Regions from separate parts of the Homo sapiens genome. Here region 1 is linked to region 2. Evidence: fine-mapped expression QTL. A gene starts in region 2. The other region holds a variant in brackets. All regions are shown on one strand. Distances are between the middles of the regions.

What was found. PIP is the estimated chance that this variant, and not a neighbour inherited with it, causes the effect. A credible set is the group of variants that fine-mapping cannot tell apart.
Region 1: its variant is the best candidate, but not a certain one, in a credible set for the expression of CDRT8 in atrial appendage (GTEx, PIP 0.86).

What each region holds. Positions count from the first base shown.
Region 1 is chr17:15,041,944-15,050,279 of GRCh38, forward strand. All of the region lies in intron 1 of LOC101928475 (a long non-coding RNA gene), which reads left to right. Among named protein-coding and RNA genes, the nearest start is that of CDRT7, 15 kb to the left of the region's middle. The variant A/G (reference allele first, on the strand shown) is at 4,040.
Region 2 is chr17:15,102,195-15,110,534 of GRCh38, forward strand. It overlaps CDRT8 (CMT1A duplicated region transcript 8), which reads right to left and starts at 3,993. Exons shown (of 2, transcript NR_103559.1): 1 at 3,834-3,993; 2 at 2,791-3,349. RefSeq lists an enhancer at 3,776-4,975.

The DNA.
Region 1 (8,336 bases), 60 kb before region 2:
GAGCATATCATTTGGGACCTCAGTTTTCTTAAGTGTGAAATAGGGGTGAAAATACCTATTCCAAAGGTGATTTTGATGTTGAAATATTAAATGGGGACAGTCTTTCACTAAATGCTTCGAAGTTATGGCCCTTATTTTTATTGCATTAACTGGCTCTGGAGCATACAATTTTGAACTTGGTTGTTTTCTCTGCTGTTTCTTCACCATCCCCAGTCCCACCGGCTAGGGAGCTGGAATTCCTGGTGTTCTCACACCACTGTGTACAGCTGTGCAGTGCACAACCTCCATGGCAGTTCTACATTTCATCTCAAACCTGGATCTGGGTCTTATTCAGCCCTTCTCCCTGCTCCATGTCCTGTGCCCTCAGGAGAGTAACCATGATCCTCCAGGAACCCCTGGAACTCCCCAGCACACGGTGTGGGCTCCTCACCTATGGGTTCCCCACCTTCCACGCAGGGAGCTCAGAAAAGCCTCAGCCCTGGACTGTGGGTGTGGGAGGGGGCAAGCTGGGGTCCAGGGAGCTTTGGCCCCTGCTGAGTCTGAGTCATTCTCCCTTTCCCTCAATGAAGGAAATGTAAACATGTAAGAAAGAAAGGAACTCAACACCACCCGTGCTATTTGTCAAAACGGACAATGCTACTGTCTATGCAGTAGAAGGTTATTGAATCGGGGGTCCAGGAGGCCTGAATCTTTGCTTTGGCTTAGCTTGGGCCAACACCATAACCTGGAGAAGGCACACAGAAGTACACCTCGCCTTCCTGTCCTCATCTGTGAGATTAACTTACCTCTGCATCCTGTGGAGTATTAGTGTGCCAGGGTACCATTCAGGCCTTCCACAGAGTGTTACTGTGGTATTCCATGGAAAAGAATGTTGTGAGATGGGAGATGTAATTATTCCACATCAAACAGAATAAAACATCTTTCTTCACAGACAGATTTTTCAGAGGGAGGAAGGTTTATCATTGCCCAAACTTACTTTGCCACATTACCCTTTAAATTTTTTTAATGGAACATCTGTTAACATCTTGAAGATGTCCACTGAGGATAGCTTGGGCAATGATGAATTACACCTCTTTATAGTCCCTCTTGGTTTAAAATTACAGTGTCTCCTCAATATCAGAGAAATAACTTCGAAAAGAAAAACTAAAATATGAGTTGGCCTGAGTAATCATTGTATCAATAAGAGTAACTGGTGAAACCTTCTTCTAACCTGTTGAATTAGCATGTGTTTATCATTCGTTGGGTCAAATTAACCTTTTCATGTATAATTTTGTTAAGATATAGTAATTTTTACATTTATACAGCATTTTAGACATGTAACATCATTAAACTGATGACAGGCAAATTAGAAGAAAATCAGACAAGACATTAAATTTGTTAAATAATTAAAGAAGTACCCTATGGTTATATTTTATTCAAAAGTTAATTTCTGATTTGTTATATTTTTTGAAGGTTCTAAGCTAGTGAAAGAGAGTTTGTTACTTGACAGTAGTGAATTACAAATAAAAAATTTCTAGATTACAGATGAAGACTCAAGCCATGCTAGATTACTACAATTCTAAGACAAGCTTTAGTTAAAACAGGGTTCCATCATCATGAATACCTACCTGGGGCCGGGCGCAGTGGCTCACGCCTGTAATCCCAGAACTTTGGGAGGCCGAGGCCGGTGGATCATGAGGTCAGGAGATGGAGACCATCCTGGCTAACGTGGTGAAACCCCATCTCTACTAAATATACAAAAAATTAGCCGGGCTTGGTGGCGGGTGCCTGTAGTCCCAGCTACTCCGGAGGCTGAGGCAGGAGAATGCCGTGAACCCGGGAGGCAGAGCTTGCAGTGAGCCGAGATGGTGCCACTGCACTCCAGCCTGGGTGACAGAGCCAGACTCCGTCTCAAAAAAAAAAAAAAAAAAAAAAAGAATACCTACCCGGGTCGGGCGCAATGGCTCATGCCTGTAATCCCAGCACTTTGGGAGGCCGAGGCAGGCAGATCACCTGAGGTCAGGAGTTCGAGACCAGCCTGGCCAACATAGTGAAACCCCGTCTCTACTCAAAATACAAAAATTAGCCATGTGTGGTGCTACGCGCCTGGTAATCCCAGCTACTTGGGAGGCTGAAGCAGGAGAATCGCTTGAACTTGGGAGGCAGAGGTTGCAGTGAGCCAAGATCACGCCACTGCACTCCAGCCTGGCCAACAGAGTGAGACCTGTCTCAAAAGAAAGAAAGAAAGAAAAAAAAGAATACCTACCTAATAACCCTACACTTGGATGCAGTAGGACACTTCTAACAAAGTATATTCAAATTTCAATTCCAGTTTTCACTCAGTCAACTCTTCCTGCTCCTCTAGCCTCTCTCAGGGAATGGTAGGTACCCAGCGTCCTGAGGCCCAGACCCAGGGAGGAGCCCAGACTCTTCCCCACCTCTCCACACCCACCAAGAAAACACAAAGCCTGGAAATTCTTTTTACCCCCTCTCCAGTCAACCCACCTGTCTCCATCATCGCTGCTGTTTTCCCTGTTCCAGGCACCATAATCTTTACCCTGAAATACAGCTACTTCAGTGATGGCTGCACCTCCAGCATCTAATCCATTTGCCATACTGCATCTAATCCATTTGCCATACTGCAGCCAGGAAGATCTTTCCTACGAGATGATGCAGTCATTTACCTTCCTGTCTAAAAGCCCTTCGTGGCTCCCCGCTGCCCTGAGGATGAAGTCCAAACTCCTCAGCATAACATAAAAGGTCTTTTTTGTCTCCTACTTACAATTGCTGGCTTAAAAAACGAATGCATCGGCCAGGCGTGGTGGCTCATGCAACATAATCCCAGCACTTTGGCAGGCCGAGGCAGGAGGATTACATGAGGTCAGGAGTTCAAGACTGGCTTGACCAGCATAGTGAAACCCCATCTCTACTAAAAATACAAAATTAGCCAGGTGTGGTGGGGGGCACCTGTAATCCCAGCTACTCGGGAGGCTGAGACAGGAGAATCGCTTGAAACCAAGAGGCAGAGGTTACAGTGAGCTGAGATCGCGCCCTTGCACTCCAGCCTGGGCAACAAGCACGAAACTCCGTCTCAAAAAAAAAAAAAAAAAAGAATGCATTACACATACATATTTATTATATAGTATATTCATTCTACAAATAAATATATAATGTATAGGCACACACATTTCCACATACAATTAAGTACAAAGAAAATATTACAGACCCCAATGTATAATGATTTGGATTTCACAAACATTACCATTCTGCCATATTTATTTATATAATTTTAGATACTGTTTTAAAGAAATGAAATATTATAGATACAGCTAAACGTTCTACACCCCAGCCACAAATCCCACCTTCCAGGCCAGACATTGCCAGAGGGAATCTACCTTTACTCTTTTCCATCAGCAAAGTTAATTACCCCAGCATCCTTTGGTGAACAGTTCATCCCTTCCTCACAAATCTGGAGTGCCTTCTCTGTCCTGTATCAGCTGTTTCTCAATGCTTAATTCTATAATTCTGTTCCATTGGTCTCTCTCTTTCAAGACAAGCTTTTCTTTATTATTCTTAAAAGATGACTTGCCTATTTTTGGCTCTTTATTTCAGTTAGATGTTTGTTATTTTTAACAGAACCTGGATACTAATTTAATGGCTTTGCACGTTATGGGTATATTCAGGCTTTCTCTTATTTTCTTGAGGAAATAACTATAGTTATTTTTATTCAAATATGTTCATTTGTCTATGGGTTCATATTTATTAACACCATTTACATTGTTTTATTAACCTCTGTAAGTTTTTCTAGTTGATTCATTTATGCTTTTATCTTTATTATTGCTTTTTATTTACTTTTAGAGAGCTTGTGCTTTTATTGTTTTTCCAACTTCTTTTTGTTTTTTGTTTATGAATACTATTTTTATTGATACATAACAGTCGTGCATATTTTAGGGGTACATATGATATTTTGATACATGTGTACAATGTTTAATGATCAAATCAGGTAATTGAGACATCAATAACCTCAAACATTTATATTTATTGTTTCTTTGTGTTGCGA[A/G]CTTTCCAATTCTGCTCTTCTAGCTATTTTGAAATATATTATTAAGTATTATCTCCCTACTGTACCATCAAATACTAGAACTTATTCCTTATATCTAACTGTATTTTAGTATGCATTAACCAACTTCTTTTCATCCCCTTCTTAGCCTCTATTAATCACTATTGCTTTTTCAACTTCTTGGGACAAATGCTTAATTGGTTAATTTTTAGTCTTTTTTTTTTTTTTTTTTTTTTTTTGAGATGGAGTCTTGCTCTGTCGCCCAGGCTGGAGTGCAGTAGCACCATCTTGGCTCACTGCAAGCCCCGCCTCCTGGGTTCACGCCATTCTCCTGCCTCAGCCTCCCGAGTAGCTGGGACTGCAGGTGCCCGCCACCACGCCCAGCTAATTTTTTGTATTTTAAGTAGAGATGGGGTTTCACTGTGTTAACCAGGATGGTCTCGATCTCCTGACCTCGTGATCCACCTGCCTCGGCCTCCCAAAGTGCTGAGATTACAAGCGTGAGCCACTGCACCTGGCCTGTTTTTCTTAATATAAGCATTGACAGTATTTAGGGTAATAAATGTCCCTATAAATATCAGTTTAACTGTACAAGTTGTGGTATGAACTGTCTGCAATTTCTATTGTTCTTAATATTTTGTAACTATCAATTTGAATTATTTTTAACCCATCAATTATTTAGAAGTATTTTTAACTTAATAGTGAATAGAATTTCTTAAAATTATCTTTTAGTCATTAATTTATAATCTTACTTCATCTTTGTTAGAAGACATAGTTTGGGTTATATTGTTTTCTTGATACTTATTTAGACTTTGTAATCAAGTATATGGACAATGTTTATAAGTGTTCTTTACTTAAAATATGAAGATGCTTTTTTATTGGAAATGGATTCTTTTATATTGGGTGGACATTCTAAATATGTTCATCATATTAAGCTTTATGAATGCGTTATGTAAAACATTTATATCCTTAGAAAATATTTATCTCCATTTTTCAGTAACTCATAGAGATGTGTTCAAAATTCCACTATAATGTTGGATTCACTTCGTATTCAGGAAATTTTTGCGTTACACATTTTTCGGCTGTCTGATTCAAGACTGTTAGAACTTCCAAGTGACTTGTGTTTATCTGTAAGAAAAGATTCCCCTTATCTCTAATACAGTTGATTTTGTCTGATATTAAGGTCACTATATCAGCTTTCTTTTCTTTTTTGCCCACTGTATCTTTTTTCATGCCACTACTTTCAACTTTTCTGTATCATATTTTAGATGGATCTCTTAAAAATAACATATAATTTAGTATTTTTTTATTTGATTGTTTTATTCCAGTGTGAGAATCTTTGTCATTTGACAAAACAGTGTAATACGTTTACACTTAGAACTACTGGCATATCTGAACACTTTTCTACCTTCTAATTTTTTAATTATCATTCTCCATTTATTTTCCTCCTTTCTTGCTTTTTATTGAATTATGTGGGAATTTTCTTCTCTTCCTTCGATTTGTTCAAAAGTTGTACATTCTTTCCCTATTTCTCAGTTCATTATCCTTATATTTTTAGCAAACATATTCAACATAGTTTTATCAACCTCTCTGCCTTCTTCAAACAATGAAAGGATCTTAGATCTTCCTTTTAATCTTCTTCAGGTGGTTTTTTTGCTATGTTTCTAATTGTCTGGGTGTTAGTTCTCCTATCTGCTGCCTTAATAATTCTCATTCATGGTTTTTTGCTTCTTTGCCTGTATCGTAATTTTCTTATGAGTTCTTCCTTGATGAACCCGCTTTATTGAGGGTTTCTTGAATAGTCTGAGTGATCCTAAGAATAGTGTTCTATTGGTTTCTCCCAGGAGCACAGTGAATTCTGGACCACTTTATGTCAATTTCTCAGTTTGGGATTATCACACCATGCATATAAATTCAGAATTTATACCCATGTTTAGTGCAGACTTGACATTTTGATTTTTCAGAGGACATTGTCTAATTTTTAAAGATTTACTTGGAGCCTGAGACAGACCCTGTGCTTTCTTACAATGTCTCCAAGCCCGGAGACAAATTTTTCTTTTTGTTATTATTATTCTAAACTTGGAGGCCATTTGAGGATCCTGGCTATGTAGAAGGGAGCTCAATTACAGCCACCCACTTCATGCAATGCCAAAGATACACCTCCTTTCCTCCAGTTCCATTAGGGCAACAAAACCTTAGTCCCAGCTCACAGCTGCATTCCCAGGTCTGATGGCCCCAGCCTTCAGCAAGGCTGCCAGAGGCTACTGAGGGTGAGAGGGGTACTATGACTAGGTATCTATTATTATTGGCATCAAGGGACTTCCATCTACTTCTGCTATTAAACTGTATGTGTAGATTCTACTAAGAATTTCTATGTTGTTTAAAAAGGGAGGAAAATCCATATTAGTATACCATAACATAAAAATCAGATTCTGAGTGCATTATTCTGCTTTTCTTGTTTCCTTCTAATCTTTCCTCCCTTTCCACTCCTGACCCAAACTATTTTATGTTCATTCTCTCAACTCCCAGGTCTCCCCTTAGAAGCCAGGTAGAGTAACAGCTCTATGAAGTTTGAGAAAACCTGCCCACTTACTGACTCCTTGTGGTTGTGGTTGAGCCATGTAGCTCTGAGTAGAAAGAAGGAGGAAAAAAAAGATTCAGGCAAAAACGGGGATAGGAAAGAACAAGTCATCAAAGAAACTTACAGATATCATCAAATGTATTTTTCGTGAGTCCTCAGTTACTCAGTAGAGTAAATCTCTCAATAATGTTTCAGAATCAAATAAGGCAACATCTTTGGAATGATCCTGTCAAATTGATGAAAAACCAAACCAACTTATATATGAAAATCAGCTTTGCTTTCTTTCTATTTGAAGGGGGAAAAAAAATCCTTGGACTAAGAATATCCCTCACCAAGAGAAAAGAAGCAGAAAGCACTGATAATTAGGTGCAAAGAACATTCCCCCAAATGTTCTTAAATTTCATAGCCAGATACTTTTCTAAATTTTTTATCACATTTTCTAGGGAAGCATTTTCTGACATTTCCTCCTGTTGAGACAGTTTCCTTTCAGTGATTCTTTCTGCATAACTTTAAGAGGCAGTCTCCAACAGGTTCCCGCTGCATGTGGCTTTCCTTCTTGGGATAATTTGCCAATGGCAATTGCATTCCTTATGCACTCAGTGACCTACCAGTCTGCCCTGGGTCCCACGGACTAAATTCTCAAACTCTCCCCTGAGGATCAGTTTTCTTTCATTTTTAATTTTTAAATCTCTTCATCCAGCTGTATTACTTTTGACCATCAGGTCTAGGTGAGATTGACAGATGCTGACAGTGGTTACAGCTGCTGCTAGCCACTGGTTACCTTAGAAATGGAGGTAAAACAAACACAGGAATTCCAAGGAACCATACCTCACCTCTAGGTTTCTGAAAACATTGTAGAGTAAATAAATCACAACCCTTTATCTATCAGACTGATTCTGTGGCTGAATTTACAAGAAGAAGCAGAGGAAAGAGAGACGGTAGCAGGGGAGGAACAAAAGTCAATTGTTACCAATAGTTCGGAGACAGAAAGCTCTGAGCTTCCATTAAGCAGTTTGATTTATAGCTTCGGATATTATGTGCAAGAGCGCCCACAACCCAAAGTGTTTTGTGTCTTGACCTGCAAAAAATAAGTCTATTAACCCTAATCAATCTCCTATTATGCAGAGGTGCCTGAAATTTAGCAAGCAAAAGGGTGACTCAGGTCTTGCAGCCCAGGAACTAACCATTGTCTTTGGTAATCTGCAGTAGCTGGGGTCTTTGCAGAAGCAAAATTATCATTCAGAGTAAGGTGCTTGGGGGGGTGTGGTTTCATCTTTTAATGAGAAAATGGAGGATTGTTTTCATTTTTAATTGCTGGGGCTAATTAAGGCCTAGGGCTCTTGTGTGAACCTGGACCCTTGCGGATGCGTGTTCACAGACACCTCTGCCTGTGCTTCACCCCAGCTGTGGGTAACCCGCCTGCCCTGACTTCCTGCTGTAATTAGTAAGGGCTTCTATTCCGATTAAGTACTTCATTACAGAAGCTAATTATGAAGTCTAGCTGGTTCGCTGTGCCTTAGGAGGGATTTCCTTGTGCTTTGTGAGGGGAATTCTAAGGGTGGGTGTTATTTTAACCTTTGAAGGGCAAAATAGAAATTGGCACATCACACGGATGGTCAAATGTTAATATGGGCATGGAAAATGGAAATATTTAAATCCACACCAGGAAAACCAAGCAAACAAAGCTTCTTTTTAACTAAGATTTGGAGAGGGGGTTAG
Region 2 (8,340 bases):
ACGAATGTGCCCACGGCATCCTTTTGCCCACCATTCCGTGGGATCGGTCACTATAAGTATCCAACCACCTAGGGGCGCTTGCCTGTTGGCATTTACCCTGTGTCCCTCACTCATCTGACCCTGGGGCTGCCTTCCTGTAGCAATGCTCTATTTCCCATCAGGTGGAGAGAGCTGGTTTCTGCATACTTCCATCTCCATCTTCTGCTGCAGCAGAACCCAGCTCAGTATCTTCAAGGCACAGAGAAGGCCACCTCTTCTAGCCCCTGGTCACCACTTAAAGTGGCACTGCCCATCTTGGGAAGCCTTTGCTGGGGATGCCTCTTTTTATGACGCCTCTCATAAGAGGGGAGGGGCTTCCTATGGCACCTCTGGAAGAGGGGAAAGGCTGAGGATTTGGGATTTTTAAAAATTTTTAATTGTAAAAGTTCATGCTTCTTGAAAGTAGAATCAGACAAGAGGGAAATGTGTAAAATAAAATGTGAAAATCTCCTTACCTAGCCGTCTCCTCTTCACACAAAAACACTGTTAAATGTCTCGTGCGCTTTCTTCCAGACCTTTCTCTAAACAGAGGAAGGGTCGTGAGGGCAGAAGGGGAGGAGGGATTGTTGCTCTTGTTCACAAACCTACTATTCTCTAACTATTGTTTACAGATATATCCCCATGTCAGTGCATAGAGATTTTTCTTGATGAAAGTATATATATATGCATATTTGAATTACAATATACTTGAATTATATATATTTGGATTATATTTATATATGTGTGTGAGCATAAAAATCTATATATAGATAGAGATATAGATAGATAGATAGATAGATATAGATAGATAGATAGATTTTAAATCATTATAGCCCTAAAGCCCTAAAAAACTTTCTGGTATATGAATATCATAATAGCAGACATTTTGAAAAATTCTTTGCAGACATAAACAATGGAAAGGTATAAAAATTAATGGAGAAATCCAAAGAGCCCGGTTTTTTCAATACAACAAATATAACCATAAAAATGATCTGGCCAGGTGTGTTGGCTCATGCCTGTAATCCCAGCACTTTGGGAAGCTGAAGTGGCTCGATCACCTGAGGTCAGGAGTTCAAGACCAGCCTGGCCAACATGGCAAAACGCCATCTCTACTAAAAATACAAAAATTAGCAGGGTGTCATGGCAAGCACCTGTAATCCCAGCTACTCAGGAGGCTGAGGCAGGAGAATCGCTTGAACCTGGCAGGCAGAGGTTGCAGTGAGCCGAGATTGCACCACTGCACTCTAGCCTGGGAAACACAGTGAGATTCTGTCTCAATTGAAAAAAAAAAAAAAAAAAAAAGATCTCCAGGCAGTATGAAATATTTCGCTTACAAAATACATTTTTTAAATCTGTGGCTGTCAGAATGCTTCTCTTCCCCTTCTTCTCTCACCGTAAACCAAGAGTCCAGCACTAACAGTCAGACTTTTGCCACCAAGACAAATGCAGAGAAGGGGTCCCCAGAAGGGAGGTTTGCTAAGGTTGAGGGAAGGGTCACCCAGTGAGATGCCCACAGTAGCCTGAGGTCCTTTTAGACCTCCACAACAGACATGGAGATATTTAGGGAGTTGTTTAGGGTTGAAGGGGGAAGATAGACAATGCTGCCCAGGAATGAATTAAAGACTCCTACCTCCAGAAAGGAGGTATCCTTATTATGACAATTAGCTGTCAATACTTTGCTCCGCACCCACACCCCTCAAGGGAATCCTGCCTTTTAGCAAGACTGACCCAAGTACAGAGCTGGCCATCCAGTAGCCTATTATCAAGTAACCTTCCATCTAAGTAGCCTATTATTAGCAAGGAAACATGGCCAAATGGAATTTTTTTTTTTTTTTTTTTTTTGGAGACAGAGTCTTTCTCCGTCACCCAGGCTGGAGTGCAGTGGCACAATCTCAGCTCACCGCTACCTCCACCTCCCAAGCTTAAGCGATTTTCATGCCCCAGCCTCCAAATAGCTAGGATTACAGGTATGCACCACCATGCCTGGCTAATTTTTTCTATTTTTAGTAGAGACAGGGTTTCACCATGTTAGGCAGGCTGGTCTCGAACTCCTGGCCTCAAGTTGATCCACCTGCCTCAGCCTCCCAATGTGCTGGGATCACAGGTGAGAGCCACCGCACCTGGCCCCAAGTGGAAATTAAAACAGCACTGTATTAGCAGTGAAGCCAGGCTCAATAATCTCCCAGGCTGCTGTCCCACCCATTGCCCCTCTGCAGGCACTCACCTTTCCAAGTCACTTTGATGGCTTCTTTCTGCGAGTTTCTACAACCTTCAGATCCAGCTTTCTCCAGCCACAGGAGTGTCCTCAACCTGTGCACAGGGCGGGCTAGAAGGACCAGGGGGTGACCCCCTACAGAAGCAGCCTGCAACCAATCATGAATGAGCATTAGTGCCAGATGCTTCAGCTTTGCATCCATCAGGCATGAGGTGCATCTACATGCCCTGGCAGAAGTCCCGATGGGAGGGAGCACCAGTGCTCTCTGACATAGCCTGCTGTGGGCACACCTGAATTGGCTTTCTCCCCTTTCCTGCCCATTCTCACTTCCTCCACCCCTCCTGGTGCTTCCCAGATCCCCCTCCAAAATGAACCCCTTGCACTTGAATCCTTATCTCCTCATGGGGGGACAAACTTAAGACACCAGGCCTTGAAGTCTTTCCTCCTATTTGCTTTTCATCCTTTTGCAAATTTATACAGGTCAGAGAAGCAAGTATTCATCCAGGGAAGCTTATCATTTTCGGAAGTGTTTAGAAATGATAAAAAATGAATCAAAATAAATAGGAGTAAATTTTATTTTTTAAAAAGCACCTAATGATAAATATGATCCATTTAATCTTAGGAGACAAATTAATAACAAAACTTTTCTTTATAATTAAGTGATGAGGCCTTCAACGGACACACTATCAAGAAGCTCAGGATGTCCTTTTTGAGGCCTCCTCCTGCTCTCCAAACTCTTCATGATTGTGCAAAAACGCCGAGCAGAGAGAGAAATGGAAATTGTGACCAGTCTCCTAAGACGTCCCAGGTTGGGTTTGCTATTGGTCTCATTAGTGCCACTGAAACTAGGTTTTTAAATCTTGTCTGCCTTGATGGAAGCATCCATGCCCTTGGTGACTCAGTTCCCAGCATCGACTTCAGGCTCAGCTTTGGGACCCATGTACCCAACCATGAGGGGCCACTCAGGTGTTGCGGGAAGAGTCACAAGCATCATCCAAGAAGACTGTCTGCAGTTGCCCAGGCCAAGGTGAAACTGGAAGCATCTTTTGATAAATATACAATGTACCATCTCACTCAGTCCCTGCTAGATAGGCCAACGAATGCTTTGAAAAACTCCTGGAAGGATAAACATCAAAATGTTTATGTTGTTGTGTCTGCATTGTGAAATTGGGGTTAATTTTTATTTTTTCTTTCTGTTTCTATATTTTCTGAATATCTTCTGTGAAAATGTATTACTTTTGCCACCATATTTTTTCAATGCTATCAATTTTTTTTAAAGAAATTGCCACTGGTGTTCACTCAGTCATTTAACAAATATGTGCCAGGCATATCCTAGGCACTAAGAATGCATAAATGAACACATAAAACACCTCCTTTCATGGGTGTTACACACTAGTGAGGGAAACAGATGTTACATAAGTCAGCAAATATGTACAGAATATAAAGTCAGGTCTCGGTGAATGTTGGAGGAACAGCAAAGCAGGACGAGCCATAGGTGACCCAGGTAGATCATGTGCAAATGGAACCTATCTCAGTTCAAGCTGCTATTACAAAGTAAAACAGATGGGTGGATTATAAACAGTAGAAACTTATATCTCACAATTCTGGGGGCTGGAAGTCTAAGGTCAGTCTAAGGTACAGGCATGGTCAGGTTCCATGAGGGTTCTCTCCCTAGTTTCCAGATGGCTGACTTCTTATATCCTCACTTGGTGGAAAGAGGGCGAGAGAGGGATCTCTCCAGGATCTCTTTTATGAGGGCACTAATCCCGTTTATGAGGGCTCCACTGTCATGACCTAATCACCTCCCAAAGGCCCCACATCACAATACCATTATATTGAGGGTTAGGATTTCAACATATGAGTTTGCGTGGGAGCAGGAGGAAGAGTATACATTCAGTCCATAAATGAGAAACCATCCAGAAATTATCCATTACAAAGGAGTTACTGTATCCTTCATTTTTTGCATGAAAATTATACAAACTGTTGGAAAACAATTCATCTTTATCTTGCATTTCAGATTAAAATTGTACTATTTACCTTCTATATAAAATGATCTAAAACAAGATCAATTTATCTGTTAGAAGTAACTTTAAAAGTTTTTTTAAACTAAATTCAGGTTTTATATGTGTCATCTTTCCCAGTTCTGTTGATTTTTCCCTCTTTACTCACTCTCTGGACTTCTACTTTTCAAAACCACCTACAAATGCCCCTCCACTGTATAGCAACAGGCTCCACAATCAGTGCAAAATGCCATGATCACCGTGACTTGCCCAGCCACCCACCTTCATTCTTCACAGCCTAAGAGTCAAGGAAGTGATGAGTCACCCTTCATCATGAATGCCTCGGCTAGGTAGGCCCGCACAGGCTTCAGTGTTTAGGACCCAGAGTTATCCCTTTACAGCATGTTGAGGAAGAGTTGCTGAAGTTCATCTGCCTTTTGCAGCCTGCACACCACTGTTGAATGTTATTTCATGAAAGAAGGATACCCAAAACTCACCAAGCCATAAGAATTCACAACCGCATTTACCCCCATCCTTTGGAAACGGCGGGATCAATTATTTTCTTTCTAAGTCCTCTTGGCCATTTCCAAATGAATGTAGGGTGTCCCAGGGGTTCCCTTGTGGGCCCATTCAGTGTGGCCAAGAGCCCCACAGTCCGCACGTACACAACAGTTCTCAGTGATGCTGCAGAGCAGGACAAAGAAGGACAGAGCTAGGTAAGAAGCCAAAGAGAAAAGGCTGCCAACTGGAGAGGCTCTTAAAGAGACACCATAGGAGATTTTAAAAATTACTGTATATAAAAGAGTTCAGGTGGTGGAACTGGAATAGTTGCTATAAAACAGTTGTTCTAAAACTCTCAAAGAAAACACTGCTAGAATTTAACAGAAAGCTTCTGCGTTCTGCAGTTGAAAACTCTAACTGTGGCACGGGTGAAATCACTCTCATTTGGCCTGGAGAAGTGGGTGTGGAAAATGGCACCCCGAGGCAATCAAAGAGACAGACTTGTGTTTCCTCTGCTGAGTCAAAGAAAAGCTGAGCACTGAGGATGGCCAGGCTTCACATAGCCAAAGCCCAGAGCCAGGAGGATAAAAGACTTTTGAGCAAACACATGCCACCAAGTCCATGCACTGAATCTGGACCCATTTATTCTTGAGTGCCCTACTTATTTTTTTAATTCTTAATAAGATTGATTATCTGGTGTTTTGACCCATATAGTAGATTACAAGAGGCGAATAAGAAAATGGGTCGGGGGTCGGGCACGGGGGCTCACACCTGTAATCCCAGGGCTCTGGGAGGCTGAGGTGGGTGGATCACGAGGTCAGGAGTTCAAGACCAGCCTGACCAACATGGTGAAACCCCATCTCTACTAAAAATACAAAAAATTAGCCAGGCATGGTGGTGCATGCCTGTAATCCCAGGTACTCGGGAGGCTGAGGCAAGAGAATTGCTTGAACCTGGGAGGCAGAGGTTGCAGTGAGCCGAGATTGCACCATTGCACTCCAGCCCAGGCAACAAGAGTGAAACTCCGTCTCAAAAAAAAAAAAAAAAGGAAAGAAAGAAAATGGGTCAGGGATGCTGTTGGGTCAGAAGCAGGAACACTGATTTTTAAAAAGACTACACGTACAATAAAAGTGACAGGTATGTGTAAGAGAAAAGATTAACAATTTTACAACAGCCAACAAGAACCTCCCAAGCAAAACAGAGCAAGTTTTTTGTTTTTTGTTTTTTGGGTTTTTTTTTTTGAGGCGGAGTCTCGCTCTGTCGCCCAGGCTGGAGTGCAATGGCGCTATCTCGGCTCACTGCAAGCTCTGCCTCCCGGGTTCACGCCATTCTCCTGCCTCAGCCTCCCGAGTAGCTGGGACTACAGGCGCCCGCCACCATGCCCAGCTAATTTTGTGTGTGTGTGTGTGTGTGTGTGTGTGTGTGTGTATTTTTAGTAGAGACGGGGTTTCACCGTGTTAGCCAGGATGGTCTTGATCTCCTGACCTCGTAATCCACCCGCCTCAGCCTCCCAAAGTGCTGGGATTACAGGCGTGAGACACCGTGCCCGGCCAAAACAGTGCAAGTTTACTAGAAGCAAAATAGCCTAATTCCTTCACCCACTTCTAAGATACCACAGAAACCGATATTCATAATGAAGGCTTCGGAGAGTCAATAGTAAAGGCACTTGCATTGGGTATTCTCAGGGAATGAAGTGGTGGGGGTGTGTTTTAGACAAATTCCCATCAAAAATGGTCAAGTGGAGAGAGTTAACTCCAAAGGGCCACAAAGGAATTTTGGGGTTGATGGAGATGATTTATATAATGATTGGGAAGTGGTTGCACAGATGTATATATTTGTCAATTCTCCAAACTCTATACTAATGGAGGTGTGTCTTATTGCATGCCAATTACTTCAATGAAATTGATTTAAAAGTAAAAATAAGGTTCAAGTTAAAATTTGGCACTTACAAGGCAGAAGTCAGCTAGCTGAGACTCCACTAATACACACAATGGCCTAGTTCCTTGGTGATAAGGCCGTTAGATTAATTCAGGAGCACACATTATGCCTGCACTGTGCTGAGTCCTGAGAATACGAACATCTTGGAAATAGCATCTCTCTCTTGGAAAGGCCCATAGTTTGATGAATTTAGTGGCTAAAAGATGCACTAATTTTCTTAAAACCTCAACACACATTAGAATGGGGTGTTGAAAAAGTTAGGGTCCAGAGAGCCCCTCTGACATGGGTATATTGTTCCTTGCCTCTTCTCTCAGGTTTTGCTGACCTACACAATTTTCTGCATTTGGAATAAAGCCCACTTTTTCCAGCATCATTTTAAAGAGGAACCATTACCACCCTCGACTGAGAACAATCCCAAGGGAGTTGGCAGAGTGGATTTTCCTCTTGATTTCTGAGCAATAAACGGGACTTGACACAAGCTGTCAGAATCTAGTAGCTCTAAAACTACCTACTGGGTGAGGGAGGAGACACAGCACTGAAACATTAGGCTGCAATCCCCCTGACCCAGGACAAAGGGTCCCAACACTCAGTCATCTGGGACTGTCTGAAAACCTATCAAAGGTTACTAATATAAAAATAGAAACAGATTAGATGGCTGAAGAGTGTCTTAGCCATAACCAGGCTTGCAGCAAGGTTTTATACATATTTGTTGAAAGAATGAGTAAAATACCAAGCTTTTGTTCTTATGACTGCTTTATAATACAGTGGGGCTGTAAGGCTAAGACTGGCAAAAAGGAAGAGGTGAAGCAATTCAATCCCTAAATTTAGCTGAGTGCTGTTACACCTGCACCTTGCGCTTCCTCTCTGCCCAATCCCCACCCCTCAGCCTAATCCCCGCCCCCTCAGCCTAATCTCCCCACCCTCAGCCTAATCCCCACCCTCACCCCATTCCCCTCCCGCTCAGCCTAATCCCCACCCCTCAGCTTAATCCCCACCCCCTCTGCCCAACCTAGTACCCCTCAGCCTAATCCCCACCCCCTCAGCCTAATCCCACCTCCTCAACCTCATCCTGATTCCAAAAGGTTTACAGGCTCAATCAGAGGATGCCTGGAAGTTTTTGTGTGTCTTGGGAGCTGTAGCCCCAAGTGTAACCCCTTCCCAGTGCTTCCCTTGGCCTGTTATGTACTGGCAGCATGTCAGTCATCACCCCAGAAGGAAACAGCATCTAACTCAGATTGTAATTCTCTTAAGGGGAGGGATGACACACAGAACTGTGGGCACATTTAAGGGAAACAGTGAAGGATGGTGAGGCGCCCAGAGACTAGCAACATGGGAGGCCATTGCAATCCCCTGGCCTAGGGTCACCAGATGCAAATAAAAATGCAGAACACCAGTTAAATTTGAATTTCAGATAAACAGCAAATAATTTTTTAGTACAAGTATGTCCCAAATATTGCACTTATATTTACTTATACTAAAAATATTACTAGTTGCTTAACTGAAATTTAAATTTAACTGGATGTCCTATATTTTATCGGGTAGCCATACCCAGGCCTGAGGCAACTTGGTGTTACTGGAGCCCAGTGAGAGTTGGAGCCGAGGAGGATGTCAGGGAGGCCCAGCAGGAACGGTGTTCACTGAGGTGTACAGACCAGAAACAGAGCCCAC